Linked DNA regions of Homo sapiens. The protein of the gene in region 1 interacts with the protein of each later gene in a biochemical or structural test. Each region holds a gene or a part of one and is shown in the gene's direction. Other genes may lie near its edges.

The links.
Region 2: the proteins of RAB5B (region 1) and RIN2 form a complex in vitro, tested with the Homo sapiens proteins (one study listed by BioGRID).

Annotation. Positions count from the first base shown.
Region 1 is NC_000012.12:55,975,281-55,991,259, forward strand, and holds part of RAB5B (ras-related protein Rab-5B), read left to right. Parts: intron 1-4,091; coding exon of another isoform or gene 4,092-4,194; intron 4,195-11,588; coding exon of another isoform or gene 11,589-11,680; coding exon 11,681-11,843; intron 11,844-14,666; coding exon 14,667-14,818; intron 14,819-15,401; coding exon 15,402-15,524; intron 15,525-15,979. UniProt on the Homo sapiens protein: The small GTPases Rab are key regulators of intracellular membrane trafficking, from the formation of transport vesicles to their fusion with membranes.
Region 2 is NC_000020.11:19,748,477-19,764,409, forward strand, and holds the start of RIN2 (ras and Rab interactor 2), read left to right. Parts: upstream 1-9,781; 5' UTR 9,782-9,851; intron 9,852-15,933. UniProt on the Homo sapiens protein: Ras effector protein. May function as an upstream activator and/or downstream effector for RAB5B in endocytic pathway. May function as a guanine nucleotide exchange (GEF) of RAB5B, required for activating the RAB5 proteins by exchanging bound GDP for free GTP.

The DNA of each region.
Region 1 (15,979 bases):
ACAGGTCCGAAACTATGCGGTGATATCACTGAGGAAGAGATTTGGGGAAGAGTGAGAAATTCCATTTCAAAAGCTTGGCATCACCCCTTGTTCTTTGTCTACTTCAAAAGCCCAGATTTCTGTGCTGTTAGAAAGTTGGGTCAAACTATGAAGTATCTGGGGAAGATGGTGAGTAGAGAAAAAGATACAGAGGTGCAGTAGCCCACGCCTGTAATCCCAGCACTTTGGGAGGCTGAGACAGGAGGATCACTTGAGCCCGGGAGTTCGAGGGTGCAGTGAGCCATGATCTTCCCACTGCACTCCAGCCTGGGCAACAGAATGAGACCCTGTCTCCAAAAAAAAAAAAGACAAAGATTGCCAAAGCAGAGGAGTGGAGTACCCTCCTCCCCACATATTTTTAATGGTCTGCTAGCCTTCTTAGTCCCTCATAGATTGGAGCCTATTGGATTTTCCCTTACTGTACTTCCTCCTTTTCTGCGTCTCTACCAATATATTTTATCACTACATTTCTTTTTTTTTTTTTTTTTTTTTTGAGACGGAGTCTCACTGCAACCTCCACCTCCCAGGTTCAAGAGATTCTCCTGCCTCAGCCTCCCAAGTAGCTGGGACTACAGGCGTGCGCCACCACGCCCAGCTAATTTTTGTATTTTTAGTAGAGACAGGGTTTTACCATGTTGGCCAGGATGGTCTCAATCTCTTGACCTCATGATCCGCCCACCTCGGCCTCCCAAAGTGCTGGGATTACAGGCGTGAGCCACCACACCCGGCCATCACTACATTTCTTAATTACAAAAGTTAATATGTACATATTTTAAAATATGGAAGGTGTACAGCAGTTTAAGAAGTATAAATCCTCCCACACATACCTTATTCATATTTCATTTAGGAAGGTCAAGGATCAGAGACAGCAAATCAGACTAATCTTGCTTTGCTTTGGGGGATGTGTCACAAAAGGCAATTGTGTTTTCATGTTCTCATCAAACTCTAGTCTTATTCTTTCTACAGTTTTCCCTTCTGGGATGATACTCTGTTATTTATTGTGTTCCTTTCACAGTTCATTTTGTCTTCTACCAAGTCCGACAAGCAGAGGGCTGTACTGTGTGTTATTCACCTTGAGTACACACAAACACACACACCCCAAGTTGTGTGCTGGGTGTCCTAGGAAGTGCCCAAAGAGATGGAACAAAACTTTATGGGGAGAAAGGATCATTTTGGTTGGGATAATTGTTGGCATCTCTGCTAAAGAAAGGAATTTCAGACCCTTATCTCAAATTCATGGTCTCTGGATGTTCATGGTCTCTGCATGTTCACATTACTTGACTATCCCTTTCTTATCCATGATGATGATGGTTCTCCTAAGAGGCCCCTGTATTTGTCTTTCTTTTCTTTTCTTCTATTTTTAGAGACAGGGTCTTGCTTTGTCACTTAGGCTGGAGTACAGTGTGTGTCTTTCTGTAGGGATCTGAGAAGCTCCAAGCTTATCTGGATTTGAAATCGGTTTTCCTCTAAATCTCAGAGTCAGAGTACAGCTGGGGCATTTCATACTACCACCTTATTAATTGAATTTGTCCTTACTAGCTTTAAAAGCCCTCTGTTGTACCCAGCCTTTGTACAGCGCCCATTGGAAACCTCGGTTTTTTCCCCCAAGGAACTTTTCTCACCTGCAAGCCAGTCCTAGAGACAGTTGTGTAGGAGTATGTGTGTGTGTTTTTAGACGGAGTTTCACTTTTGTCACCCAGGCTGGAGTGCAGTGGCATGATCTCGGCTCACTGCAACGTCTGCCTCCTAGGTTCACGCGATTCTCCTGCCTCAGCCTCCAGAGTAGCTGGGATTACAGGCGTGCACCACCACGACCAGCTAATTTTTGTATTATTAGTAGAGACGGGATTTGACCATGTTGGCCAGGCTGGACTCTAACTCCTGACCTCAGGTGATCCACGTGCCTCAGCCTCCCAAAGCACTGGGATTACAGGAGTGAGCCACCGCGCCTGGCCGTGTGTGCGTGTGTGTGTGTGTGTTTTAATCCTATCTAATTTTTCCAACAGTTTTTTGCATCCTAAGAGAGTTTAGGAGTAGAATTATCAATAAGGAATTTCATACATAGACCTGGAGTTGCAAAAATATATTTGGAGAAGAGAGCTTTCCCATTGCCCTTCAAGTCATACCTCATATCTTTTAAAATTTTTTTCCTGGACAATCCCTACTGCATAACATACCTCATATCTTCTAACTCTTACTTTACCTGGGAGCAAATATTGCTTATTGGTATGAATTTTACTTCTGAGAAGGAGGCATAGGGTAGAAGAAGCAAGCGTATAGTTTGCTCCCTAATCCTAAAGCATTTCAGATTGGAAGGTAACCAAAGTGTGAGACAATGAACTTATAATAAGGAAATGCAGCAGCCCTCTTGGAGGAAGGATACCATAAAACCCTACATGGTATACTCCCACTTCCGTTTTGGGAAAGATTTAGCCATTGACTCAACAGTAACTGAACTGAATAAGGAGCTACCCAGGTGAACAAAGTATGTGTACATTTCTGGGCAAGGTTGTAGCTTCTGTTCAGGGACAGTGGGTACCTTTTCAGAGTGTCTCCTGGTTCTGTGGTGTTATGGCTCCTTTTTTTAAACTTGTGTTTCTCAAGTCAGGAATTAATAGATAGTGGCCCAAAGCTTTTGACCGTTCAACATCAACTGAAAATTCAGCGAACTTTGTTTTTAGCTATAGTTGCCTCAGTGTTTGGGTGGGAGGGCCACATATTGGGTGTGATTAGGCCATCTGAGGCATAGTAACGGGTGACAGGAAAAGCAGTTAGCCCATGCGAGTTGCAATAGTACCTTGTGGGCAAGATCCCAAGGGGGCCCTCCATCCAAGGGAGATCACAGAGGAGCCAGGGAGAGAATTGATTCTGAGGCCTATTAAAAATATTCCCAAATGGGGCCGTGTGCGGTGGCATGCGCCTGTAATCCCAGCACTTTGGGAGGCTGAGGCGGGTGGATCACGAGGTCAGGAGATTGAGACCATCCTGGCTAACACGGTGAAACCCCGTCTCTACTAAACAAAATACAAAAAATTAGCTGGGCGTGGTGGTGGGCGCCTGTAGTCCCCCAGCTTCTCGGGAGGCTGAAGCAGGAGAATGGCGTGAACCTGGGAGGCAGAGCTTGCAGTGAGCCGAGATCGCGTCACTGCACTCCAGCCTGGGCGACTGAGCAAGACTCCGTCTCAGGAAAAAAAAAAAAGAACCCAAATGGAATTGAGTAAGATCTGTCCAGATGGTACAGAAAGGGAGGAGTTGATTGGGGGAGAGAAGTAGAATTACTTAGCCTTAATTTAGGGAGCATTTAATGAGCACCTACTAGGGATCAGGCAGCATGCTGTGCTCTGAAGATTTTAAGATAAACTCCCACTTTTAAAGAAGTTCATAGTTTAGCAGAGCAGACAGACACAATTTATATACTGTGATAATGTGATACATACTATTATAGAAATACAGTCTTTTTTTTTTTTTTTTGAGACGGATTCTTGCTTTGCTGTCCAGGCTGGAGTACAGTGGTGCAATCTGTGCTCACTGCAACCTCCGCCTCCCGGGCTCAAGCAATTCTCATGTCTCAGCCTCCTGGGTAACTGGGATTACAAGCCTGTGCCAACATGCCCAGCTAATTTTTGTATTTTTAGTAGAGACGGGGTTTCACCATATTGGCCAGGCTGGTCTCGAACTCCTAACCTCCAGTGATCCATCTGCCTTGGCCTCTCAAAGTGCTGGGATTACAGGTGTGCGCCACCACACCTGGCCAGAAATACAGTCTTAATACTGTGGGACCCTACGGGCCTCTAGAGAATGATTAATTCTGTGGGGGAGAGGGTGATTATGTAATTTCACTGAAGTAACATTTGAGCTTGGTCTTATGAGATATATAGAATTTTGCTAGGCAGACAAGTAGGGACGGGCATTCCAATCTTACCTAGGTCAATAATAGGGAGTTTGTACTACCATACTGATAAGAGGTAAGTATGCTTTTTGCCTCTTGGAGAAATATAAGGGAAAGGGTGCGAGATGTGGAAGGAATCTCATTTAATCCAATGACTCATTAGGTAACACTGGATCAACAAAATGAAGAGCTGAGCCAAGTGGTAGAACTCTCATTTCAAGATTTTGGTGACTTGGGTTTAAACAGAGTTGGAGAGGGAGATGAAGGTATTTACTGGTTTCTGCTCTATCTTCCCTACTTAGTAAAACTCTCACATTAATCGCAGGGCCCACCAAATTCTGCAAAAGTTACCGCTTGTTTTCCTATTGCCTCTCATTGAATTGCTTCTATTTCAACTGTCCTGGCAGGGTTTGGTCATAGACCTTCTAGAAAAGAGTAGTGATGAATTAATTCTTCTGTCAGAAAGATATGGGACTGCATCCCAGTTGCCAAGGAAGGCCTGGGTCTTCTTAATTTGTTTTTAGTCCCAAAGCAAGTACTTACCTAAACTGAATAGAGGCAGGAACTCTATCCAGTCTAAGCTCTCGATCCTGTCCTGGTGTTCTCTTTAGAGTTCAGCATTTCCTGCTTCCTTAAGAAGTATAGTGGTATAAGAGGCAGGAGTACCTGACTAGGAGTCCTACATTTACTGCTTAGCAGTTGGCTGTATGGTAACACTTGACAAGTTGACTAATTTTATTTTATTTTTTATTTATTTATTTATTTTTTGTGCAAATGGTGGCCTTTAATACCAAGAAAGACCATGACAAGTGACAGAACAGGAGCAAATTCCCTAGTGTAGTGCCGAGCTAGCCCTTTGCAGGACCCTAAAACCTGATCTAGTAACAGAATAAATCAGTGTATTTACATTTATGTTTGCCCTGAAAACCCAGGTAAGGTCTGAAGCCTGAGGCATCTCTCCTTCCTTTCCTCCTCCCTCTCTTCCTACCTCCTTGCCTTCGTTCACTTCCTCAATTCATTCCTCTCCCTTCTCCCTTCCTCTCTTTTCCTTCTTTTCCTTTCTGCTTTTCCCTTTTCTCCTTTTTCTCCTCATTCTCTTTACCATCTACCTATGTGTCCCTCCAAGCCCCTCTGCTATTTCTCCCCTGCTCACTCCCTCTGCTGTTGTCTCCCTCAGGTTCAGCTTCCGGGGTGGGGAGGCAAGAAAGGGTCCTCAGCTCAGGGAGCACTTGTTGGTGTTCTTTATGTCACAAGTTTTCAGGTCAGTACTGGGAGGCTTGTTGCCGTTTCCTGATCTCCGGCCTCCTGACTTGAGCAAGATGTCCCGGGCCAGGGAACTAAAAGCCTCATCCACATTCATACTGGATTTAGCACTAGTTTCGAAAAATCGGATTCCATGCTCTCGAGCCAACTTATCGGCCTGCTCCTTCTGCACCTTCCTCTTGGCCTCCATGTCACATTTGTTCCCTAGCAAGAGGTGCTCCACCCCAGCTGAGGCATTCTCCATGATGCTTTTCATCCAGTTCTGAATATTCTCGAAAGATTTCTCATCCGTGATGTCGTATGCTAGGATAATGCCCATGGCTCCACGGTAGTAGGCAGTAGTTATTGTCTTGAACCGCTCTTGGCCAGCTGTGTCCCAGACTTGTAGTTTGATCTTCTTCCCCTCTATATCCACAGTGCGGATCTTGAAATCAATTCCGATGGTGGAGATGTAAGTGTTGTTGAAGTTGTCCTCTGCAAAGCGAATGATCAGACAAGTCTTGCCCACCCCCGAGTCCCCGATCAGCAGCAACTTGAAGAGGTGGTCGTAGGCTTTGGCCATGGCGGACACCGGGGGAGCCGGGGAAGGGATGGGGCTATTTATTTATTTTTGAGACGGAATCGCTCTGTTGTCCAGGCTGGAGTGCAGTCGTGTGATCTCGGCTCACTGCTACCTCTGCCTCCCAGGTTCAAGCAATTCTCGTGCCTCAGCCTCCTGAGTAGCTGGGATTACAGGCACGCACCACCACACCCAGCTAATTTTTGTATTTTTAGTAGAGACAGGTTTTCACCACGTTGGCCAGGCTGGTCTCAAACTCCTGACCTCAGGTGATCTGCCCATCTCGCCCTCCCAAAGTGCTAGGATTACAGGTGTAAGCCACCACGCCTAGCCCAAATTGACTAATTGTATGTGTCTCGGTTTCCTCACCTATAAAATATAGAGACTGGACTAAATGACCTCTAGACTGGCTCTGATCTGCCTGACTGACCTTAAGGCTGACAACTGGTACTGGGTTGGACTCCAGTGGCTATATATACCGAGAACTCTGTCTCTGTTGATAGGTGATAGACTTCTGGAGACTTCATATGTATTTGGTTTAGGGACTCAAAGCTAACAAGTGGAAGGGGGCTTGAGGAATGGAGTCTTACTCTAGCTGGGACTGCTAAGACACTTTTACTGTTATGCCTACTTTGCTGCACTGCTTGGGAGAGTTGCCCACATTAAAGAACATCCTCCATGGGTCTCCTGCATCTAGTGGGCTAACCCATGGTCAGGCCTCAATCCTCCCTAGTTAATGGGTCATTTTATAAGTCATTCTTGTAGAGCCGTACTTCTTTTTTTTTTTTTTTGATGGAGTCTTGCTCTGTCACCCAGGCTGGAGTGCAGTGGCAAAGTCTCGACCCACTGCAGCCTCTGCCTCCCAGGTTCAAGCAATTCTCCTGCTTCAGCCTCCCAAGTAGCTGAGATTACAGGTGTCAGCCACCACACCTGGCTAATTTTTGTGTTTTTAATAGAGACGGGGTTTCACCATGTTCGCCAGACTGGTGTTGAATTCCTGACCTTAGGTGATCCGCCCACCTCAGCCTCCCAAAGTGCTGGGATTTCAGGCATGAGTCACTGCACCCGGCAGAGCTGCACTTCTAAGGGAAGTTAAATCTGATTTCTTCTCTTCTGAGCTAAAAAGGTTGAAAGGAAGAGAAACCTGCCCCATCTCCCTTTTTTTTGTCTCGGGTTTGAAGGTAATAATCATCATACCACTTGACTGGTTTACCAAAAAAAAAAAAAAAAATTAGTATTTTTGTGGGAAAAAATGAGAATAGAAAATAAATAATTGAATCTTATATGTATTATTTCATTTCTGTACCACAGAATTTTTGAGAGTCTAGCTATTATATTTTTTAAATGATACCCTTATAAACATGATAAGATTAAAGATCAAAGCTTAGAGGTGGCTCAACAATTGCTGTGAACAGGGAGGAAGGCAGGACATATTCTTTCTTTTTCAGAGGTGGGATCTCACTATGTTGCCCAGGCTGGTCTCAAACTCCTGGGCTCAAGTGATCCTCCTGCCTTGGCCTCCCAAAATGCTGGTATTACAGGCGTGAACCATGATGTGCAGCCAGAACATACTCTTAAGGCTACATATTAGGGTACGAGGTAGTCTTTTCTAAGTCAGTAGTTACTGATCTCTGAGAATCCAAGGTTGCTTAGTAGCAAGAAAGCTTGCTGACCACATCTGGGCTCTGGCTTGACTTCCCATCTCTGAGAGTTAGTGACAGAGACTTTGCAACTCAAGCGTGTCTGCAATTGTTTCCTGTCTTTACACTCCCCCAGAGCTCAAGTGATATGTTTAGCCATGAGAATTCAGTCCATTCTAACTCCCACATTTTCCTTTATTGTAGAGTAGTAACATTGAGGCTTAATATTCTACCCCTTGGATCACATGCTTTGAAATACATAAAAATGTAAGGGAGTAAGTTGAAAAAACCAGTAACTTTTTCTATTGTTTCTTGAGAGTATAGCATATATATGTCACCTGAAGGAAACTTGATCAGCTTATCATCTGTCCTTTTTTTTTTATTATGGTGTCACCTGTCTTCTCTTTTATTTATTTTTTATTTTGAGAGACGGAGTCTTGCTCTGTTGCCCAGGCTGGAGTACAGTGGCATAATCTCAGCTCACTGCAACCTCCGCCCTCTGGGTTCAAGCGATTCTCCTGCCTCAGCTTCCCAAGTAGCTGGGACTACAGGCATGTGGCGCTACACCCAGCTAATTTTTGTATTTTTTAGTAGAGACGGGGTTTCACTATATGTTGGCCAGGCTGGTCTCAAACTCCTGACCTCTCAAACACCAGAGTGAGACTCTCTCTAAAAATGGAAAATAAATTTTAAAATGTTATAATTAAAGATACTCATTTAAATTGAATAAATTTAGCTTTATGAAAAATTTGCTGTATCATCTTTATTTTGATCCTTTCGTCATAGGCCATTGAAAACTTAATCATAAAATGGTACATGTATATCTGAATTTTTAAGACTGACTGACCAAGGGGACTACAGAATACCCAGTAGAATCAAAGTAATTGTCATGTTCCTCTGTATTAATCTAGTCTACTTTGGGACCTTGAGTTCTCACCTCTCATTCTTTTGCTAACTTCCTCTTTACCCTTTAGTTATGTCTCCTTTTTTTTTTTTTTTTTTTTCCAGAGATAGCGTCTTGTTCTGTCGCCCAGGCTGGAGTGCAGTGGTGTAATCAGCTCACTACAACCTTCAACTCCTGGGCTCCAGTGATTCTCCCACCACAGCCTCTGGAGTAGCTGGGATTACAGGCACATACCACCATGCCCAGCTAATTTTTTTAAATGTTTTCTAGAGACTCAGTCTCGCTATGTTGCCTAGGCTGGTCTCAAACTCCTCACCTCAAGCAAGGCTTCCCCTTTTATCTCCCAAACCCCTGGGATTACAGGCATGGGCCGCTCTGCCAGGCCTGTTTTTTCTCTTTTTCTTTCTCTGTACCACTTTCATATTGTGGCTTCTTCCCTGCCCCCGATCTCCCCCCTACCCACCCCAGGTGGAGTCTTGCTCTGTTACCCAGGCTGGAGTGTGGTGGCACGATCTCGGCTCACTGCAACCTCCGCCTCCCGGGTTTAAGCAGTTCTGCCTCAGCCTCCCGAGTAGGATTACAAATGCCGGCCACCAACCACACCCGGCTAATTTTTTTTTTTTTTTTTTAGACTGAGTCTCGCTGTTGCTCTGTCGCCAGGCTGGAGTACAGTGGTGCAATCTCAGCTCACTGCAACCTCCACCTCACAAGTTCAAGCAGTTCACCTGCCTCAACCTCCCAAGTAGCTGGGACTACAGGCACGCGCCACCACGCCCAGCTAATTTTTGTATTTTTAGTAGAGACGGGGTTTCACCATGTTTGCCAGGCTTGTCTCAAACTCCTGACCTCCTGATCTGCCTGCCTTTGCCTCCCAAAGTGCTGGGATTACAGGCGTGAGCCACTGTGCCCGCCTTTTATTTTTTGAGACGGAGTCTCGCTCTGTCACCCAGGCTGGAGCACAGTGGCGCATCAGCTCAGTGCACCCTCTACCTTCTGGGTTTAAGCGATTCTCCTGCCTCAGCCTCTGGAGTAGCTGGGATTACAGGTATGCACCACCACACCCAGCTAATTTTTTTTGTATTTTTAGTGGAGACGGGGTTTCACCATGTTGGCCAGGCAGGGCTCGAACTTCTGACCTCAGGTGATCCACCTCAGCCTCCCAAAGTGCTGGGATTATAGGTATGAGCTACTGCACCCAGGCTGTGGCTGCTTTTTAGGAATATATTGATAACAACTAATATTGAGATATATTTTAATAGCTATTAGCACTATGCTAAACACATCTTTCACTTATTATTTGTAGCTATGAGGATGGTATTTTTTCCATTTTACAAAGGTAGAAGGTAAGGCTTAGAGAGGTAGAGAAATTCTCTTTATATCATATTAGTAATGATTAGTAGCTTAATATTTATTTAGCACTTAGTATCTATCAAATACTTAAAATACTTTAGTTATTTATATGCATTATCTCATTTAATCCTTACAACACCCTTATGAAGTAGGTGCTTATAAGGCTATTATCTCATTTTACAGATGAGGAAATGAATGCACACATATATTTAGTGACTTGCTCAAGGTTCATAGCTAGTAAGTAGAGCTGAAAAACAAACGTGGAGAATTGGACTCCAGAGCCTTTATTCCTCTGAATTGCCTCCTGTATGATTTTCTGTCTTTACGATCTAGTAAGTGGGGTTACTGAAAATTTTTAACCCCAGTTTAACTCCAGTCCCACTAATTGTGGTGACAAAATAATGATGTTTCCCCACATATGCCATAGAGTATGATGTCTGTGAAGTCACTAGGATCTGCTTTGGAAAAGCGAAAGAGTAATTTGAACAAGCAAAGTACAACTCTCAAGCAATGCTTAGGTTTGGGAGAGAGGTTTTTGCATGCTCTGCCTATGCTAACTTCCCTTTGAATTTCATAGTTCCTTTCCGCTCAGAGTCAGGATGATGAAATGTATTCAGATTTAGACGATTAGAATCTCAAAGTCCCAACTCTTCTCTCTGTTCCCTGCCCCACCAGCAGCTTTCTTAGCCCTCTTAGAAGATAGAGGAGCTGATTCAGTGTATTCTTTCATCAAATACTGATTGCTTGCAGACTTAACGCCCTATACCATCCTCTGGAGACTTCTGCATGTCTTTAGAAGGTATACCTTTCTCTGCCTCTAATTTGGAGGGCTACAGCTGTTAGGCCCCTTTGGTGTGGAGGGTAATCTAATCCCTAGGCACCAGCAAGACAGCTGCAAGTTGAGAGTAGGTCAAGCTTACTGATTCTTGATAGACTTTCAGATTTGGAAAGATGGCAGAAACAAAGTGAAAAAAGAGTTGTTAATGAAACAAAGAGTTGATAATGAATGTGATCTGTTGGTTGTATTTCTCTCTTTACCTTCAACCAAAAATGAGAAAGGATAGATTTTGTGGCAATGGGACCCTGGTTAGATCTTTAGAAATGTCTTATCAGGGAGACCGGTCATATATAAAGGATACAGCAGCAACTACCCTTCTGCCCTTAGGAGTGGTGACTCTTATCCCACACCCCTAGAGTGAATCTCTCATTTTGACAAAGAGCTAAGGAAAAATGAAAAGAAGGCCAGGCACGGTGGCTCATGCCTGTAATATCAGCACTTTGGAAGGCCAAGGCGGGCAGATCACCTGAGGTCAGGACTTCTTAGACTAGTCTGACCAACATGGAGAAACTCCGTCTCTACTAAAAATACAAAATTAGCCAGGCGTGGTGGTGCATGCCTGTAATCCCAGCTACTCGGGAGACTGAGGTGGGAGAATTGCTTGAACCCGGGAGGCAGAGGTTGTGGTGAGCCAAGATTGTGCCATTGCACTCCAGCCTGGGCAACAAGAGTGACGTCTCAAAAAAAAAGAAGAAAAGGAAAAGAAGAGCACAGCACCAGGATGCCAAGGAGATACTGGGGATCTAGGGTACCGGTGGGTGGATCTGGATATTCTTCAGGCCAGCTAAAGGTTGATCACTTTGTGTGACTCAAACAAAAAACTTTGAAGACCTGGTGGGGAATTACTGGGGAATTAAAAACTCTCAGTTTTCAGTCTCTCTATTTCGGCTCCCTTGGCAGTTAGAGATTATGTGGTAGGGCAGACTCCAGAAGCAGTTCTTATTTTGCTCTTCCCAACTCTTACCACTGAGGATCAGCTGCCTGGGACCTTCTCAGAGCTAAGTCCTCATAGAAGCAAGGAGATGAAGAGGTTCTATCCTTCTCTGAAAAGCGATTGCAGCTTCAATGGACGTATGTTTAATTTTATTCACTTTTTTTTCTTGCAGGAGTGTTGAAGCCTGGAAATCCCCTCCCCTTCCCCCTCCCCCCTTTACAGTATCCCCCTCCCTCCACCCTTTCCCATTCTGATAATCTGGCCATGACTAGCAGAAGCACAGCTAGGCCCAATGGGCAACCCCAGGCCAGCAAAATTTGCCAGTTCAAATTGGTCCTGCTGGGAGAATCTGCAGTGGGAAAGTCAAGCCTGGTATTACGTTTTGTCAAAGGGCAGTTCCATGAGTACCAGGAGAGCACCATTGGAGGTGAGTGCCTTGGGGTAATAGGAGATTGAATGTTTGGTAAGGGTTTTTTTTTTTTTAGATGGAGTCTTGCTCTGTTACCCAGGCTGGAGTGCAGTGGCGCAATCTTGGCTTACTGCAACCTCTGTCTCCCAGGTTCGAGCGATTCTCATGCCTCAGCCTCCCGAGTAACTGGGATTACAGGTGCACACCGTGGCACCTGTCTAATTTTTGTATTTTTAGTGGAGAGGGGGTTTCACCATCATGTTGGCCAGGTTGGTCTCAAACTCCTGACCTCAGGTGATCTGCCTGCCTCGGCCTCCCAAAGTGCTGGGATTACAGGCGTGAGTCACCACGCCGGGCCGGTAAGGCTTTTGAAAAGAGATATAAGACCTGATTATGGAGCTGGCCCTCTTAGTCCCATTCTTTTCCCCAGAAATGGAAACCCTTTATAAAAACAGAGGCCGGTCCCAGTGGCCCACCACTTTGGGAGGCCAAGATGGGCGGATCACCTGAGGTCAGGAGTTCGAGACCAGCCTGCCCAACATGGCGAAATCCTGTCTCTACTAAAAATACAAAAAATTAGCCAGGCGTGGTGGCAGGCGCCTGTAATCCCAGCTACTCGGGAGGCTAAGGCAGGAGAATCACTTGAACCCAGGGGGCAGAGGTTGTAGTGAGCCGAGATTGCGCCACTGCACTCCACCCTGGGCGACAAGAGCAAAACTCCATCTCCAAAAAAAAAAAAAAATCAAAATCTGGTAAAATAGGCTGGGCATGGTGGGTCACACCTGTAATCCCAGCATTTGGGAGGCCAAGGCAGGCGGATCACTTGAGGCCAGGAGTTCAAGACCAGCCTGGCCAACAAGGTGAAATCCCCGTCTCTACTAAAAATACAAAAAATTAGCTGGGCGTGGTGGCACATGCCTATAATTCCAGCTACTCAGGAGGCTGAGGTAGGAGAACTACTTGAACCCAGGAGATGGAGGTTGCAGTGAGCCAAGATTGCGCCATTGCACTCCAGCCTGGGTGACTAGAGTGAAAATCCGTCTCAAAAAAACAAAACAACAACAACAACAACAAAGATTAGCCGGGCATGGTGGCACATGCCTGTAATCCCAGCTACTTGGGAAGCTGAGGCAGGAGACTCGCTTGAACTCATGAGGCGGAGGTTGCAGTGAGCCAAAATCACGCCAGTGCATTTTATCCTAGGCGAAGGAGCGAGACTGTTTCAAAAACAAAAAAAAATCTGGTAAAATAGAGGCTGGAACTAATGCAAAATACAAAGGGTGTCTGTCTTTCTCATCTTTGCTACCTTTTCCCCACTACTACCCCAAAATAGGGTGCTAATTCAATAAAGGATCTTTTATGAGAACTTCCAAATTATTCCTTCCCCTTGTTATTTTTATTTATTTATTTATTTATTTTTGAGACGGAGTCTCTGTCGCCCAGACTGGAGTGCAGTGGTGCAATCTTGGCTCATTGCAACTTCTGCCTCCCAGGTTCAAGTGATTCTCGTGCCTCAGCCTCCTGAGCAGCGGAGATTACAGGCACATACCACCATGCCCGGCTAATTTTTGTATTTGTATAGAGACAGGGTTTCACCGTGTTGGCCAGGCTGGTCTCAAACTCCTGACTTCAAGTGATCCACCCGCCTCGGCCTCCCAAAGTGCTGGGATTACAAGCATGAGCCACCGTGCCTGGCCTCTTTCCCCTTTTTATTAGTCATCTTGGAAATGTATTCCTGGACCTGCAGCAGATTATATGAAAAAGTAACAGCCAAATAATATTGATAATGATGGGACTTGCCATCAAGCTTTAAAATCTTCTAATTAATTCTTTTTTTTTTTTTTTTTTTTTTTGGATACTGAGTCTCACCCTGTTGCCCAGGCTGGAGTGCAGTGGTGCAGTGGTTGCCCATTGCAACTTCCGCTTCCCCAGTTCAAGCACTTCTGCTGCCTCAGCCTCCCAAGTAGCTGGAATTACAGGCGTCCATCACCATGCCTGGTTAACTTTTGTGTTTTTAGTAGAGGCGGGGTTTCACTATGTTGGCCAGGCTGGTCTCGAACTCCTGACCTCAAGCCATCCACCTGCCTTGGCCTCCCAAAGTGCTGGGATTACAGGCATGAGCCACTGCGCCCAGCCAATCCTCTAATTAATTCTTTTGTTTGTTTGCGTTTGTTTGTTTGTTTTTTGAGACGGAGTTCCGCTCTTGTTGCCCAGGCTGAAGTGCAGTGGCGCCATCTTGGCTCACTGCAACCTCCACCTCCCAAGTTCAAGGGATTCTCCAGCCTCAGCCTCCCGAGTAGCTGTGATTACAGGTGTCCACCACCACGCCTGGCTAATTTTTGTATTTTTAGTAGAGACGGGTTTTGCCGTGTTGGCCAGACTGGTCTCGAACTCCTGACCTCAGGTGATCCACCTGCCTCAGCCCCCACCTCCCAAAGTGCTGGGATTACAGGCGTGAGCTACCGTGCCCAGCCCAATCTTCTAATTAATTCTTGATGTGACTTTTATCTGAAGCTATTTTCTCTGTCATTTGTTATTCTCCTATTTTGGTTAGAAGAAGGATGACTCGTATAAGTGCCAGTTCTTCTGTCCCTCTTAGTTTATGATGTACCCCCATTCCTTAGCTAGTGACATTTCTGGCAGGAAGGACTTAGCCAAGGGCAGTCTTAATCCTGGTTTCAAGACTTACATGTAAGGAGAACTCAAAACCTTTTCCTGTAGCTGACTATCCTGGGTGGTGACTGGTCTTAGTGTAGGGCAGTTACATTTTGAAGGGGGGGAGGGATGTTCCCATTCATCCTCCCACTTACAGCATCTTCCCCTCCATTCTCTCATCCATAGCGGCCTTCCTCACCCAGTCCGTTTGTCTAGATGACACAACAGTGAAGTTTGAGATCTGGGACACAGCTGGGCAGGAGCGATATCACAGCTTAGCCCCCATGTACTACAGGGGTGCCCAAGCTGCAATCGTGGTTTACGACATTACTAATCAGGTAAGTGAGCTAAGAAGACTGTCCTTGTTGGCTGGACATGGTGGCTTACGCCTATAATCCCAACACTTTAGGATGCCAAGGCGGGAGGATCATGAGGTCAAGAGATTGAGACCATCCTGGCCAACATGGTGAAACCCCGTCTCTACTAAAATTACAAAAATTAGTTGGGCGTGGTGGTGCGCGCCTGTAGTCCCAGCTACTCGGGAGGCTGAGGCAGGAGAATCGCTTGAACCCAGGAGGCGGAGGTTGCAGTGAGCCGAGATCGAGCCACTGCACTCTAGCCTCGGCGACAGAGCAAAACTCCGCCTCAAAAAAAAAAGAAAAAAGACTGTCCTTGCTTATATTTAGAGGAGTTAGTTTGGGGCAGGGGGTAAGGGGGCAGAAAACGGGTTCTTGAAATAGCAAATAAGAGTACAAATTATGCTTCCAAGTGCTAAGAAGACAGATAATGAATTATCAGAGACCTGTGGTTTCACTGAGGGAAGACCACCTAGAAGAGGTGAATTTTGAGACTCATTTTAAAAGGTGATGGATATGGATTGGCAGTCATTCCAGCCTACTCATTCTCTTCATGTTTTCCTAGGAAACCTTTGCCCGAGCAAAGACATGGGTGAAGGAACTACAGCGACAGGCCAGTCCTAGCATCGTTATTGCCCTGGCAGGGAACAAAGCTGACCTGGCCAACAAACGTATGGTGGAGTATGAAGTAAGGTGGCCCGTGGAGTTCCTCTCTAACACTTCCTCTGTTCCTGGGACCTCTTTTTTTCCAAACCAGCCCTCTCTGAAAACGTCAACAGAGGACATTCATTGTCTCATTCCCCAGTTCTACACCAAGTTAAATACAGCAACACTGTGACCCTAATGACAGCCAGGAGATTTTCAAAGGAGTCAGGAGAAAACTCCAGAGCAGAGGGTTAGGGAGGTACCAGCTGTGGGGGTACCAGTGTGAAAACAGGAAGGAGGGAGCAATTAAATTTGTGGTAAGGGACTATTCAAGTGTCACAACCCAAAAGCCCCCAACTAACTTACCCTCTCCCCTATAATTAAGCTTTCTGACATTTGTGTGTTGGACTGAGTGGACATGGGGTCATCTTGAGGGAGTTGTCATTAAATTATGCATCTAGGCTAGCTGGCTCAAAGGGGTATTAATTAAGGGGAGGG
Region 2 (15,933 bases), on another chromosome or scaffold:
AAAACAACAAATATACTTTCCAAATGACTGGAGAATATATAAGGAAATAGAGCACAGTCAGTTTTACCAAAAACACAGAACTTAGGAATTGGCAGGGTTTCATAAAACCCAGAAAGCATAAAACAAGATGGCAGAAATTAAACCAAATTCATTAGTTGGGTTTAAAACAAAATCCAATCGTGGTATATGTCGCTTTAAATGTACTCTTTCAAAATAAAATGATGCAGAGAGACTTAAAACAAAGGGTGGACAAAAATTTACTACATGGACACAAAGACAAAGAAAGCAGGGATCGTGATATGAATTTCAGTCAAAGAATAGATCAAGGGAAACACATTGAATGGGGCAAAGGAGTTTTATTACACCAATAACTATGTAGTCCATGGCAACGTGACAGTACACATACATATTTATGTACTGTGTAACACAGCATGAAAATGCTGGAATAAGAGCAGTTGAAAGTCAAAGAAAAATGTCAGAATTTTGATTGAAATGGAAGATGTTAATACACCCATCCTAAATCCATTTTCTTCACAAAGATGGGTAGGGGAGAAGGCAGAATATAGTCTAGAAGACTGTTTGGAAGATGAAATAATAAAGTAAATGACATAAAGACTTAGAATAAATATGCAAGATGAATGAACGTTTAATTATTGCTCATGTTCACATGTTAAAATTGTTAAAAAATAAACAATTTTTTAACAGCTACTACATGCTCAGCCTAGAACTAGATTATGGGGCTTGCTTAATATGCCTTTTGTTCAGATAACTATGGAGATTTTTTTTCAAAATTGGTCATACACTAGATCACAAAGAAAGCCCCAATTAATTTCCAAAAAAAAAAAAAAAAAGCAGAAATTGAACAAGCTACATTTCTTCACCACAATGCAATAAACCTGGAAACTAATAACAAAAATTTAAAGAGCAACAACAAGGAAATCTCAACCCTTGGAAATTTTTAAGTGATTTAAATACTAAAGTCAAAGAGGATATCAAAATCTTAAGTAATTATATACAAGATTGCCTTCACACTTGTGTTTTCAATTCTCTCACCAGAGCGACTCCATCTTGAAAACGGGATGGGTAAAATAAGGCTGAGACCTACTGGGTGACATGCCCAGGAGTTTAAGGCATTCTTAGTCACAGGATGAGACAGGAGGTCAGCAGAAGATACAGGTCACAAAGACCTTGCTGATAAAACAGCATGTGGTAAGGAAGCACGCCAGATCCCACCAAAACTGAGATGGGGATGAAAGTGACCTCTGGTTGTCCTCATCGCTTTTTATATGCTAATTATAATACATTAGCATGCTAAAAGACACTCCCACAAGCTCCATTAAAGTTTACAGATGTCATGGTAACATCTGGAAGCTACCCTATATGAACTAAAAAGGGGAGGAAACCTCAGCTCCAGGAATTGCCTATTGCTTTCCAGGAAAACTCATGAATAATCCATTCCTTGTTTAGCATATAATCAGGAAGTAACAATAAGCATAAGCAGCTGAGTAGCCTAAGCGGCTACTAAGAAACTTTGCTTTTACTTTACTCTATGGATTTGCCTCCAATTTTTTCTTGCATGACAGCCAAGAGCCCTCTCTTGGGACCTGGATCGGGATCCCTTTCCGGTAATGCTTTTTCTTCAGATTAACTAAGGATTCATATAATATTTTAAATATTTAAATAATTCATAAACATGCAACTTGAAAAGTTAAGGGCCCATGCCAGGCACAGTGGCTCATGCCTGTAATCCCAACACTGTGGGAGGTCAAGGGAGGCGGATTACTCGAGCCCAGGATTTTGAGACCAGCCTGGGCAATATGGTGAAACCCCGTCTCTACAAAAAATACAAAAATTAGCCAGGCATGTTGGTGCTCGCCTGTAGTCCCAGCTACTTGGGAGGCTGAGGTAAGAGGATCACTTAAGCCTGGGTGGTGGATGTTGCAATGAGCCAAAATTGTACCACTGCACTCCAGCCTGGGTGACTGAGAAAGACTGTCTCCAAAAGAAAAAAAAAATGTTAAGGGCCCAGTAATCCCACACTCCAGGGATAATCACTGACTCCTTTCTTTGAGATTCTGAAACAAAGATATAAGTTAAAAAGTAGAAAGAATGTATCTTTTTCAATGTCCCTTCCTTCTTAGAAACTCCTCTCTCTTGTGAACCATATCTTTGGAGAGGGAGATGCAGTTATATAAGCACTGTTTAGGTAATTTCTAATACATGGAAATAGTTAAGTATCTTCTGATATTCTCTACTGTCTTCTGGGGTAGCTATGCTATGGTGCTTGAGCAGGGTAATGTTACCCAGTATCAGCAGCCACCAACAAAAAAGAATTGCCATAATGATTATGATGATGATTTTATAGCGCAGGGTCCAGAGTAAAAAATTGCACTTTTCAAATCATTTACACATGACACTCACTTCTACCTGTTCTGCTCAGCAGAGAGGAGAGGAGAGGAGAGAAACAAATTGCTGAGTTGCCAGCTCTGGGCAATGCTTCCAGAACCAACAGTGCTTGGTTTACTTTAAAGGGGAAATAACTTCATTAGAAATGACATTTTCTTGGCTAGCTGGTCCCCAAGCCTGCAAAAGTGCCCCATGAGCACTTGTGCTCTCTGCAGCTGACTGAAGCGGCCACTTGAGTCTCTTGGGACCCTCAGATGGGAGGTCAAATCTGCCAAAAATGAGATAAGTCCATGTGTCCTCACGGGTTTTCTTTGATGAGTATCTCTGTTATAAGTGCAGCCTCCCCAGCACTCTCTCTTCCTCTTCCTGGTTTAGCTTGAATACTGTGGCTTGACTACCACACATTCACCTTGTTTGTCTGGTTTATTGCCTCTCCCTCCCGATTAGATTGTGAGTTCAGAGAGAACAAGGGGATTTTTCTGTTTAGCTCACTGCTGTAGCTCCAGTGCCTATGACAGTGCTTGGCGCATAGTAGGTACTCAATAAACACTTTTGAATAAATAACCCCCGAATTCATTTCTATGGTAAAAGATGTTTTCCTGGGGAAGGGCAGAGCAAAATGGCCCCCAAGTTCTGGAAAAGACTGAGATTCTAGGACCATCCATGCATGGAGCAATGTGGGCAGAGGAAGCATGTTTTCAAGAGAGTGGGTGGAAGGGGAGAAAGGAAAACTTGACAGGAAGAAAGGAGCAGAGGCCGGGTGTCTTCAGCACTTACCTGGCACCCTTTATCTATAAAACCGGGTCCCTCTGCAGCTGAAAAAGGAAGAGAAGAGAGAGGGACATGGGGCCAGGTCTACCTGTCTGTCCACTTCTCCCTTTTGCCCATGTATCCAACCTCTTAGGAATTGCTGTCAGCTCAACCTTCAAAATAATTAAGAATCCAACTACCTCTCTCCACCACCCCTGCTCTGAGCCTGCTACCAGCCACCATCTCTAGCCTGAACTATTTCAATCGCCTCCTCGCTTATTTCCACCTCTGCCCGGACAGTGGGCTCTCCAAACAGCATTAGACTGAGCTCTCAGCAATAACAGATCAGGTTATCCTCTGCTCAAACCCTTACGGCTCAAATCCCACCTTCCCTGAGGACTACTCTGACCACACTTTCATGCGCGTCTGTGTGAAGAGACCACCAAACAGGCTTTGTGTGAGCAACATGGCTGTTTATTTCACCTGGGTGCAGGTGGGCTGAGTCCAAAAAGAGAGTCAGCAAAGAGTGGTGGATTATTATTAGTTCTTATAGGTTTTGGGTTAGGCAGTGAAGTTAAGAGCAATGTTTTGTGGGCGGGGTGGATCTCACAAAGTACATTCTCAAGGGTGGGGAGAATTACAAAGAACCTTCTTAAGGGTGGGGGAGATTACAAAGTACATTGATTAGTTAGGGTGGGGCGGGAACAAATCACAATGGTGGAATGTCATCAGTTAAGGCTATGTTTACTTCTTTTGTGGATCTTCAGTTACTTCAGGCCACGTGGATGTATACGTGCAAGTCACAGGGGATGCGATGGCTTGGCTTGGGCTCAGAGGCCTGACATTCCTGCCTTCTTATATTAATAAGAAAAATAAAACAAAATAGTGTTGAAGTCTTGGGGCGGTGAAAATTTGTGGGGGTTGGTGTGGAGAGAGAATGGGCGATGTTTCTCAGGGCTGCTTCGAGCGGGATTAGGGGTGGCGTGGGAACCTAGAGTGGGAGAGATTAAGCTGAAGGAAGATTTTGTGGTAAGGGGTGATATTGTGGGGTTGTTAGAAGAAACATTTGTTGTGTAGAATTATTGGTGATGGCCTGGATATGGTTTTGTATGAATTGAAAAACTAAATGGAATAAGAGAAGGAGAAAAACAGGTATAAAAGGTCTAAGAATTGGGACGACTCAGGACATCTGATTAGAGAGTGCCTAAGGAGATTCAGCATAGCCCTGCCAGCAAAGATTATTTACTTCAAGAGTTAAGAATGGCAGTTTGGGGATAGCACGAGGCAAGCGTGATCAGGGTGAGGAACAGCAAAGAAGGAAATATGGGGAAATGGGGTGAATATCAGGTGGATCAGAGAGATACAGTCATGGGGGTCAGGTGTGGTATCAGGAATAATGTGGGAGGCCAGATTGAAGTCCGGGCCAGGAACAATGGTAATTGTGGGACTTAAAGAGTGAGTACAGCTGAAGGAGCCGGGGAGCAGAAAGTATATGTGTCAGGTATGAGGAAGAAAATAGATTTTGGAAGTTATGAGAAATGTAGAGAGTGAGTTGAGCATAGTTTGTGATTTTTAGGGCCTCTAACGGTATTAAAGCAGCGGCAGCCGCTGCACGCAGACATGAGGGCTAGGCTAAAACAGTAAGGTCAAGTTGTTTGGACAGAAAGGCTACACGGTGTGGTCCTGGCTCTTGTGTAAGAATTCTGACCGCACTAACCATGCCTAGGAAGGAAAGGAGTTGTTCTTTTGTAAGGGATTGAGGTTTGGGAGATTAATCGGACATGATCAGCAGGAAGAGCACATGTGTTTCTATGAGAATTATGCCGAGATAGGTAACAGATGAGGATGAAATTTGGGCTTGACTGAAGTAATGGGGGCTGTCCGCGAAGCCTTGCGGCAGTACAGCCCAGGTAATTTACTGAGCCTAATGGGTGTCAGGGTCAGTCTAAGTGAAGGCAAAGAGAGGCTGGGATGAAGGGTGCAAAGGAATAGTAAAGAAAGCATGTTTGAGATCCAGAACAGAATAATGGGTAGTAGAGGGAGGTATTGAGGATAGGAGAGTATATGGGTTTGGCACCACAGGGTGGATAGGCAAAACAATTTGGTTGATAAGGTGCAGATTCTGAACTAACTTGTAAGCCTTGCCTGGTTTTAGGACAGGTGAAATGGGGGAATGGTAAGGAGAGTTTATAGGTGCCCATGCTGTAGCAGGCGAGTGATAACAGGCTTTAATCCTTTTAAAGCATGCTGTGGGATAGGATATTGGCGTTGAGCGGGGTAAGGGTGATTCAGTTTTAATGAGATGGTAAGGGGTGCGTGATCAGTCACCAAGGAGGGAGTAGAGGTCTCTTATACTTGTGGGTTAAGGTGGGGGAATACAAGAGGAGGACGCAAAGGAGGCTTTGGATTGGGAAGAAGGGCAGCAATGAGATGCGGCTGTAGTCCAGGAATAGTCAGGGAAGCAGATAATTTGGTTAAAATATCTCGGCCTAATAAGGGAAGTGGGCAGGTGGAGATAACTAAAAAAGAGTGCTTAAAAGAGTGTTGTCTAAGTTGGCACCAGAGTTGGGGAGTTTTAAGAGGTTTAGAAGCCTGGCTGTCAATACCCACAACAGTTATGGAGGCAAGGGAAACAGGCCCTTGAAAAGAAGGTAATGTGGAGTGGGTAGCCTCCATATTGATTAAGAAGGGGACGGACTTACCTTCCACTCTGAGAGTTACCCAAAGCTCGGCGTCCGTGATGGCCTACGGGGCTTCCGAGGCGATCGGGCAGCATCAGTCTTCAGCCGCTAAGCCGAGAAGGAGTCAGTCAGAGAGCCTCGGGCCAGAGTTCCAGGGGCTCGGGGAGTGGCTGCCAGGTGAGTTGAACAGTCTAATTTCCAGTGGGGTCCCGCACAGATGGGACACGGCTTAGGAGGAATCCTGGGCTGCAGGCATTCCTTGCCCTGGTGGTCAGATTTCTGGCACTTGTAGCAAGCTCCTGGGGGAGGAGGTTCTAGAAGAACGCCTGGCCGCTGCGGTTCAGGCATTTGGAAGTTCTTGTATGCTGGAGATGTGGCTGGGGTTTGTCTCACAGTGGAGCCAAGGAATTGCAACTTTTTTCTATTATTGTACACCTTGAAGGCGAGGTTAATTAAATCCTGTTGTGGGGTTTGAGGGCCGGAATTTAATTTTTGGAGTTTTATTTAATGTCGGGAGCAGATCGGGTAATAAAATGTATATTGAGAATAAGATGGCCTTTTGACCTTTTAGGGTCTAGGGCTGTAAAGCGTCTCAGGGTTGCTGCCGAACGAGCCATGAACTGGGCTGGGTTTTTATATTTGATGAAAAAGAGCCTAAACGCTATGTGATTTGGGATAATGAAAAAGGAGCATTAACCCTGACTATGCCTTTGGCTCCAGCCACCTTTTTAAGAGTAAACTGCTGGGCAGGTGGGGGAGGGCTAGTCACAGAATGAAACTATAAGTCGGACCAGGTGTGGGATGAAGGGAGGGGAGGCGCGGAGGCTGAGGAAGAATTGGGACCTAGCTTGGGCTGGCGCGGAGGGGAGAGGTCAGATGGGTCTGTAGAAGAGGAAGATTAGAAAGACTCAGCGCCGCTTGGGGTTGGGACTGAGGGGACAGGAGGGAGGGAAAGAAGGAAGATTTGGGACGAGTTGCACGGGGCACAGAGACTAGGAAGGGACTGATGTGTAAAAGAATGCCTGGACGTCAGGCACCTCAGACCATTTGCCCATTTTACGACAAGAATTATTTAGATCTTGTAGGATGGAAAAATTGAAAGCGCCGTTTTCCAGCTATTTGGAACTACTGTCGAGTTTGTATTGGGGTCAAGCGGCATTGCAGAAGAAAATAAGGCATTTAGGTTTTAGGTCAGGTGTGAGTTGAAGAGGTTTTAAGTTTTTGAGAACACAGGCTAAGGGAGAACAAGGAGGAATGGAAGGTGGAAGCCTACCCATAGTGAAGGAGGCAAGCCCAGAGAAAAGAGTAGAGACATGGAGAAGGGGTGGGGAGTTCTTGCCCTCCAGAAAAGCAGAGAAAGGGTTGGGGCACGGAAATAAGGGATTGGGGCACAGAGATAAGAGGTTGGGGTGCGGAAATAAGCGATTGGGAGGTTCTTGCCCCTAGGAAAGCGGGACTTGCCGCTAAGGGTGAAGGAGAAGGGGTTGAGGGGTACTTGCCCCTGCCCCAGGAAAGGCAGAGAAGGGGTAGAGACAAGGAGAGAAGGGGTTGGGGTACTTGCCCCTTCCCCAGAAAAGCAGGACTTGCCGCTAAGGGTGAAGGACCAAGGCAGGCGTCCCTGCGTGGTCTGACACCCTTGAAACGTGGGTGTATAATCACAGAGGCATCCCTGCAATGATTAAACACCAAGGGAAGGCTGCCTTCCCAGTCCGTGACCGGCGCCGGAGTTTTGGGTCCACGGATAAAACGTGTCTCTTTTGTCTCTACCAGAAAATGAAAGGAATTGAAATTAAGAGAAGGGAGAGATTGAAGTGTAGCGCCAAGATTGAAAGGAGAAAGAGGTTGAGGGATAGTGAGGCAAGTTGGAGAAGAGAGTAAAAAGAGGCCGCTTACTGGATTTGAAATTGGTGAGATGTTTCTTGGGCTGGTCGGTCCTGAGGTCGTAGGTGGATCTTTCTCACAGAGCAAAGAGCAGGAGGACAGGGGATTGATCTCCCAAGGGAGGTCCCCCAATCTGAGTCACGACACCAAATTTCATGCGCGTCCGTGTGAAGAGACCACCAAACAGGCTTTGTGTGAGCAACATGGCTGTTTATTTCACCTGGGTGCAGGTGGGCTGAGTCCAAACAGAGAGTCAGCAAAGAGTGGTGGATTATTATTAGTTCTTATAGGTTTTGAGATAGGCGGTGAAGTTAAGAGCAATGTTTTGTGGGCAGGGGTGGATCTCACAAAGTACATTCTCAAGGGTGGGGAGAATTACAAAGAACCTTCTTAAGGGTGGGGGAGATTACAAAGTACATTGATTAGTTAGGGTGGGGCGGGAACAAATCACAATGGTGGAATGTCATCAGTTAAGGCTATGTTTACTTCTTTTGTGGATCTTCAGTTACTTCAGACCATCTGGATGTATACGTGCAAGTCACAGGGGATGCGATGGCTTGGCTTGGGCTCAGAGGCCTGACACACACCATCTATTTAATTCTGTGACCTGCTCCAGACACAAGCACTCTGGGCCCCCATATTCTTTTTCTTGTTTTCCCTATCACCGACCTCTTCCAACACCCCAAATAATTTACTTAGGGATGGCCATGGTTTACCCTCTGTCTCCCACTTCTTCCCCGCAGGCCTTCAGCTCCCCCAGGTGAGGGAGACCTTTGCTTTGTTCACCGACATATCCCAAGCATTAGAACTGCGCCTGGCACCAGCAGGTGTTCAATTATTTATTTAATGGGTGACTTGGAGCAGAAACCGAAGTGCAGTGGACTGTTTTCCTGGGATCTGAGCTGATGATAAATGATAAATAAGTCTTGGGATTTTAGAAGGCAGGAATCACGAAAACCAACACCAATGAAATCCAAGTCTCCTCTGCTACTATCTGAAGTGGAACAGAACAGAAATAAGGTCTGTTTTCTTTCCGCTTCGCTGTTCTGTTTCTGTCCAAAACAACCGTCTCTCTGACACCTTCGAGGTGTCCCTTTGTCTCTTTGAGGTTCCCTCCGTGACACTGGCTACTTTGTAACTCTAACACTGTCAGCAATTAATTCCCAAAGGTGAGGTCCCCGTGGGAAGTGGGAAAACCCAGCGAATCACCAGGGACCCGCCTGATTCCGAAAAGGCTGGATGCTGGCTGGGAACCGGCCCCGCAGCTCCGGCGTCCCCGCCTGCCTGCGCGGCCTTCAGCTGGGGTTACGGAGGGCTCCCAGCGCCGATCCAAACCGCGTTCCAGGCGGGGTGGGCGGGCCCCTGGCCAGCGAGGCCGAAGCAAAACAACCCGCCCAGGCGTCCAGAGCGTATCCAACCCTGGAGAACCTGCCCCGGAACCAAGAGCCGCAGCCAGCTCAGGCCTCTCGAGTGGGGCCTTTCCAGCCCCTGCAACAGATCCCGGGATCTGTAGTTGGGCGGAGGGGCTCGTTATGGGAAAGGGGTGCGTGCGCGTTTGTGCTAAAACAAGAAAGGCAAGAATCTCCGAGAACAAAACTCTGGTCCTCGCCTGGCCGGGGACCGCAGAAGACAGGGGCGGCAGCGCCAAGGCGGGTCAGGGGCCGGTCCAGCCAAGTTTGCTCCGGCTTAGATAAACTTTCTGATGGCAGTTTTTCCTGGTTGCAGCCTGGGTTCCTTGTAACAGGGTAAGCGTAGCGGGTGGTTGTCAAGAGGGGCGGAGGCTGGCGGTTACAGGGAATGGAGGGATGGGCCGGACCTGGGGTCGCGCAGGCGCCTTGGTCGCTGCCTCCGATCCGATCACCCCCGCCCCATCTCCTCTGCGAGCTCAGGAAGGTGGCTGGGGGAGGGGGATGGCTCCCTACTGCCGAGGGACGGCCCGAGGCAAACACAAAGCCCTTCCCTCCCCTCCTCCTCTTTCCTCTCCTCTCCCCTCCCCTCCCCTCCTTTCTCCCCCTTCCTCCTCTTCCTCCTCCTCCTCTTGCTCCTCCCGGGCGGGGAAACCCAGCCCCGCGCTCGTCTTTGGGGCCACCGGTCGCCCCCGCCTCCGGGACCTGCGGGGAGGGCCCGCGAGAGGTAAGGGGCGGTGGCAGCGGAGACCCCACCCCCTGTGCCCGCACCTAGAGAGCCCGGAGAGGCTCCGGGCACGGGCGGGGCTCTCTGGGGTTCCAGACGTGGGTGCTGCTGTGCGCACTCTCTCCCTACTCCGGAGGGGACTTGAGGAAGACAGCCAGAGCGCGTCCTCGGGGATCGTGGGGAACGGAAGGGGGAAGGGGGATCAGGGAGTGGGGACAAGGGGCAGAGTGACATTCCGGAGCGCGAGGTGGCCGCTGGTCCCGGCAGGGTCACCGGGTGTCCTCAGCTGACCTGTGCGGGGCTGGGGTGAGGGACAGCTGGAGGGTGCAGGCACTATGGCTCGAGGTGCGGAGGTGCGGGTGTGCGTGCGTGTGCACCGGACGGAGTTTGGTAGGGACCTTTGAGGAGTTCTACCTGCAGGGCTGCCTGTGGGGTGTCAAGTGCTCCCTGCGCCTGAGCGCGCGGGTCAGACCCGGTGTCGCACAGCTTTGATCCCCAGCGCGGACCCCACTGGTGAGTCCAGCCAGTGTGCAGGGCAGATGCTCCGACCGGAGATTTCCTCCCCCGGGTGGAAAAGCAGGAGGGTTGTTGTGTCCGGGCAGGGGGCACTTGGGCTGTCGCGGTGATTGATGGCTGCGCAGCGGGCGGAGGAGGAGCCCCGGATTCCTGCCGGGAAGGGACGGGGCCACTTTCCCACTTTGAGGCCTCCCCGCCCCCTTCTGGGCTTGGCCTCCACCCTTGGCCTGGGCTCCCACCAGCTCGGCGTCCACCCACCGGCGGTGGCGCGCCCCTCGACCGCGCGGGGACAGCAGGATTTGCAGAAGTTCAGCTTGAAAGCCTATGATATGTTGCCAAGAAATACAGGGCAAGATCGGTCCCCTGGGCCCTGAGAGGCGCCTGTCTTCTCAGAGCTCTTAAATCCCTGGGGCTTTCCTAATTCCGCAGTGTAGCGGCACTTCCTTGCGCGGTTTTGGGCACATTGGGGTTTCTTAGGAACACGCTGTCATCGGTAAGGAAACATCAGAGTACTCTTCGACCAAAAGGACTGTAAATACTGAAGCAAAAAGAAACACTTGCTGGGAGTGCAAAGGGCTTACTGGGAAAAAAGAAACACACAGGGCAGCACTCCATCATTAAGATAAATAGTATTTTAATACAATCTTTTTAACAAAACCAAATTGAATGTAAAAAATTCATGATAAGCAAAAATCAACATTTTAAATACAGGTGGGTGTTGTTAGAACCCTGCTTCATAGGCCGGGTGCAGTGGCTTATGCCTGTAATCCCAGCACTTAGGGAGGCCAAGGCAGGCAGATCACTTGAGGTCAGGAGTTCAAGACCAGCCTGGCCAACAGGGTGAAACCCCATCTCTACTAAAAATACAAAAATTAGCTGGGCCTGAAGGCATGTGCCTGTGGTCCCAGCTACTCGGGAGGCTGAGGTGGGAGAATCACTTGAACCTGGGGGCAGAGGTTGCAGTAAGCCGACATTGTGCCACTCCACTCAGCCTGGGTGACAGAGTGAAACTCTGTCTAAAAAAAAAGAACCCTGCTTCATTGTTCAATGGGAACAGTCATATCCAGTCTCCCTCCCCCACCTCCCCATTTGTTTGTTCCCTTGCCTGGTGGTTTGAGAGTTGACAGTGGCATGCAACAGATTGAGCAACTCTGGCTTCAGATGTAGTCACGTTCACTGAATGCAGAGCTTTTATTAACTTTTTACCTAATTCAAATGTAGGAGGATATTGTCATAAGTGGATATAGAGGTGCTAATTTTCCTTTTTGCCTCAGGTTCCAATATTGCCTCTGGAATACTCATGCACTCCCGTGCTTTGGCACCTCCAGAGAGAGCATCACAGGCTAGGGATGGGTAGGGTCCCGGGACAGTGAAGGGCCCTTGCTTTTGGAACTTGGGAAGAAGGCTGTTGACAGGAGCTTTTGGGTTTGGAGACTTGCTCTCAGTAGTTGGAGGCTGGAGACACGGGGAAAACCAACCTGCTATCAAGACCTTTGTCTGGAAACATTCTCCTGCAGACAGTTCATCAGAGCAGAGGAGGAAACTGAAATAGCCCACACTTGACCTCTAGTGTAGGGCAGGTGGGAGGGAGCTTGACTCCCAGGATGGCTATGGCGTGTGCTTATTTAAAGATAACTTCGCAGCAGCACTCTTATCCCCACCCAAGGTGTCCTGCCATACACCTTATCCAAAGTCAAGGGTCACTACCCACTTCAGGACTTCCACTTTCCAGAAAGAACCTCCTTGCTTAGCTAAACCCTCTTCCTCTGCTTGGAGGACACAGATGAATCAGGTATCACAGATGAAACACAGGGTATGCTACCCTGAGAGGTCCATGCTCGTGTGACCCATTAATGGGAGGCCCATTCTTCACATACTCTCTGTATTATAGTGCTTTGACCTTGTGCCCAATTCCCCTTGTATATCCAACCTACCTAATGAACCTTCAAGAATCCTAATAGTTTCAGCAAGAAAGATTTCCCCGACCCTGTCCTCCTTTCCCCAGTAAGACACCCCCTCACTGCCACCAGAATTCCTTGTGTGTGTGTATGTGTATGTATCTCTTAAAGCAATACAGTGGACCTCACTTGCCCACTGTCTGTAAGCTTCCCAGGGTCCAAAACCAGGCCATAGCCCTTAAGACCTACCACTCAAGGAGGGGGTGTTGAATGAATGAATGAACAAAAGTGTCCCTTTGTCAAGGCATTTTGAGAAGTTGCACAGCAAGAAGTATACCCTCAGGACTGTAATGCCTCTGAAGAAAGCAGGTAACATTTTTGTAGCACATTATAAAATGGATTTACAAATAGTATCTCAGTCGTTTCTCACAACAGTAGTATTCATTGCATTTTGTAGGTGAGGAAATGAAAGCCTAAAATTAGTCTGTCATTCTGCCGCAGCACAGTGGACTTGCTAAAGGCGAACCTGCCCAGAGGCACACTCCATGCAGTGTATGTACAGAGCAGGATTCACCGAGTTGTGTTTTAGGATGCAGTTTTGCTAAACAATCACTAATGAGTTACAGTGATAAAATATGTTAGGGAAATGCTAATGTTGTCTGTTTTTTTATGGCAGGACTTTAAGGAGTCTTTATTGTTATACCATACATTGGGACTCTTTAGAATGACACCATAGTATGGGATGCTTGCCAACTTTATTTGGCCACAGAACACTCTTTCTCATGAAGTATCTTCTGGATCCAGTGTTCCAAGGAATTCACCTAGGGAATTGTTTAGTTCTCCCAAAATCTTATAATGTCTAGGCCAACTTCCAAGGAATGTTGATTCCATCTAATATGTGGTATTTTGGATAGTAAAAATGTATATTCTGGACACTAGAAAAGCATAATAATCCACCCTTGTCAATTTAGAGTGGATTGTTGATCTGTGTATCCAATTAACTCAAGTAGCTTCCATGCATCCGATTAATATGAATAGGTTCTTTGGGTTTGATCAGATATGATCTGAGGGAACCCCAGCCTCTGGAGAGCACTGCCTTTTTGCTGCCCAGAAGCCTTCAGATTTCAACCAGCCTTTCCAACTCTGAGAATCCCCTCAAACGCAGCTCTGTAGATGGGGTGGCAACTTCAGGGTTCTTGTCCTGAGATCACTATTTCATCTTGGCTAGTTACATCCATTGAGTGAGAAAGTACACCTGCTCAGTGAATTTTCTGTTCTCTCATTCCTCTCTCCTTGGGTGCTGGCCAAGTGAATTCTCTAGGGTGTCTAAGTGTGTGTGGACATTTGCTTATGAAAAGTAAGTAAATGTCACTCTCTGGGTGTCTCAGACCTGGAACAGAAGCCTGCTAACAGCAATCCCTCCTCATAGGAGCTGCAGCCCCCGTTCACAAGCAACCATTGTTTGAAATCAGGTATTTTTAAATCAGAGTTTGCCTTCAATCTACTGTTAGAGCACCTTCCACAGACCAGTAACCTCAGCTATTGAGGCTTTATTGCAATTAAGGAGACAAAGTGAGGAAGTTGGAGTTAGAATTTCAGGGACTCAAAGGAGAATTGTGGGCTAGTGGAGGAGCCTTCGGAAAGTGATCAAAGAGGCACAGCTGTGCAAATTTAACATTCATCTGCAGACATTTCTAGGTCTCCAATGCTGAGCAAATATATCTCAAGATTTGTTTCGTAGATTTTTCGAAAGCACAAAAAGTAACAATTCTCATTTAGAGATATGTATTAAACAGGGTGGTGTCACAGAAGTCAAGGGAAGGAGTGTTTTGAGAAAAATGGACCTATCAGATGGGGCGGGATGGGGAGTGACAAGGGGAGTTGAAGAAGATGACTAGAAGGCTGATGGGTCATTAGCCAAGCCGTGGAGTTCAAGTGTGTGTGTGAGCATGCACATGTCATCGTGCTGTGCGAACAAGGGAGAAGGTAGGGAAGAAACACTGAATGTGATTTATTTTATTTATTTATTTATTTATTTAGAGATAGAGTTTCGCTCTTGTTGCCCAGGCTGGAGTGCAGTGGTGCGATCTCGGCTCACTACAACCTCCACCTCCCGGAGTCAAGCGATTCTCCTGCCTCAGCCTCCTGAATAGCTGGGATTACAGGTGCCCGCCACCACACCTGGCTAATTTTTTGTATTTTTAGTAGAGATGGGGTTTCATGATGTTGGCCAGGCTGGTCTCGAACTCCTGACCTCGGGTAATCCACCCACCTTGGCCTCCCAAAATGCAGCAATTACAGGCGTGTGCCACCATGCACAGGCCTAAATGTGATTTTTAACCTGTTGAGTTTAAAAGTCCTGGCCAGGTGCAGTGGCTCATGCCTGTAATCCTAGCACTATGGGAGGCTGAGGTGGGCAGATCACTTGAGGTTAGGAGTTCAAGGCCAGCCTGACCAACATGGTGAAACCCTGTCTCTACTAAAAATACCAAAAAAATTAGCTGGGCCTGGTGGCAGGCCCCTGTAGTCCTCGCTACTTCAGAGGCTAAGGCAGGAGAATCCCCTGAACCCGGGAGGCAGAGGTTGCAGTGAGCCAGGATCACTCCATTGCACTCCAGCCTGGGTGACAGAGCAAGACTCTGTCTCTAAATAAATAAATAAATAAATAAGATATATATGTATATCAGCACAGAGAAGTGTGGAATGTCAGCTGAAAGTGTGAATAGAACCACACAAGTGAATACAGCCGCTAGCAAAACCACTCAATAGCATAATCACATAATGAATGAGTGAATGAATGAATGAATGATTAAATGACACTGTTTTTTGTAGCAGAAACTGTTTTTAAACTCACTAATAGTTAGGTGAAAGTTTAAACACAGTCATTTTGTGAAAGAGTCTAAGAAAATAAAATTGAATTTTTTAACGCTGTGGGTATTCCAGCCTGTGTGAGATGTCTTATTCTGGTCAAAAAGCTTTGGTTGTAAGAACCTCCATTACTAACGTTGAATGATGCTCCATGATTGAGAGCCCCTGATTCAGTTTGATGTAGGAATGGTTATAAAGGTATGCTGGTTTGTTTTAAAAACCATCCTAAGAGTGATTTAAAAGACGTTGCTGGACTTTATAGTATCCAAATGAGAAACGGATTCGGGAGGTGTTCTAATTCCTACTATGAGTGTATATCTCATTTTTATTTGATGATACCATCTGGCCAAGTGATAGTACATGGAGTATTAATACATAACCCCCCACTTGCTTAAAATTCTCAAAATTTGAGTCATTTCAAAAATCAGATTTGGAAACATTTGTATTTTTAATGAGTGAAGTCTTTTTTTAAGTAAGTTAATCCAATAAATTGGATAAAGAGACTTTTTGTTTTTTATGTACCTGATTTTATTTGGTAGATCAGGAATTCAAAATTTAAAAAAAGCTAGATTAAATAGTTAGCTAGATGAACTTTAGTTATTAAAGAAATTGTTACCGATTTTTCCCAAATACTGAACTCCCCCATTGCATTTTAACTATGGCTCGATTACAAGAATACTTTTAAAACATGAATGGAAGCAGACATCTGTCCTGTGTGGTAACTGAGGGCAGCTGTGCATGGAAACCTTTGAGTCTCGGAAAGTCAGCCAGGATCCCACACCAGGGGAAGTTGAGTGCTG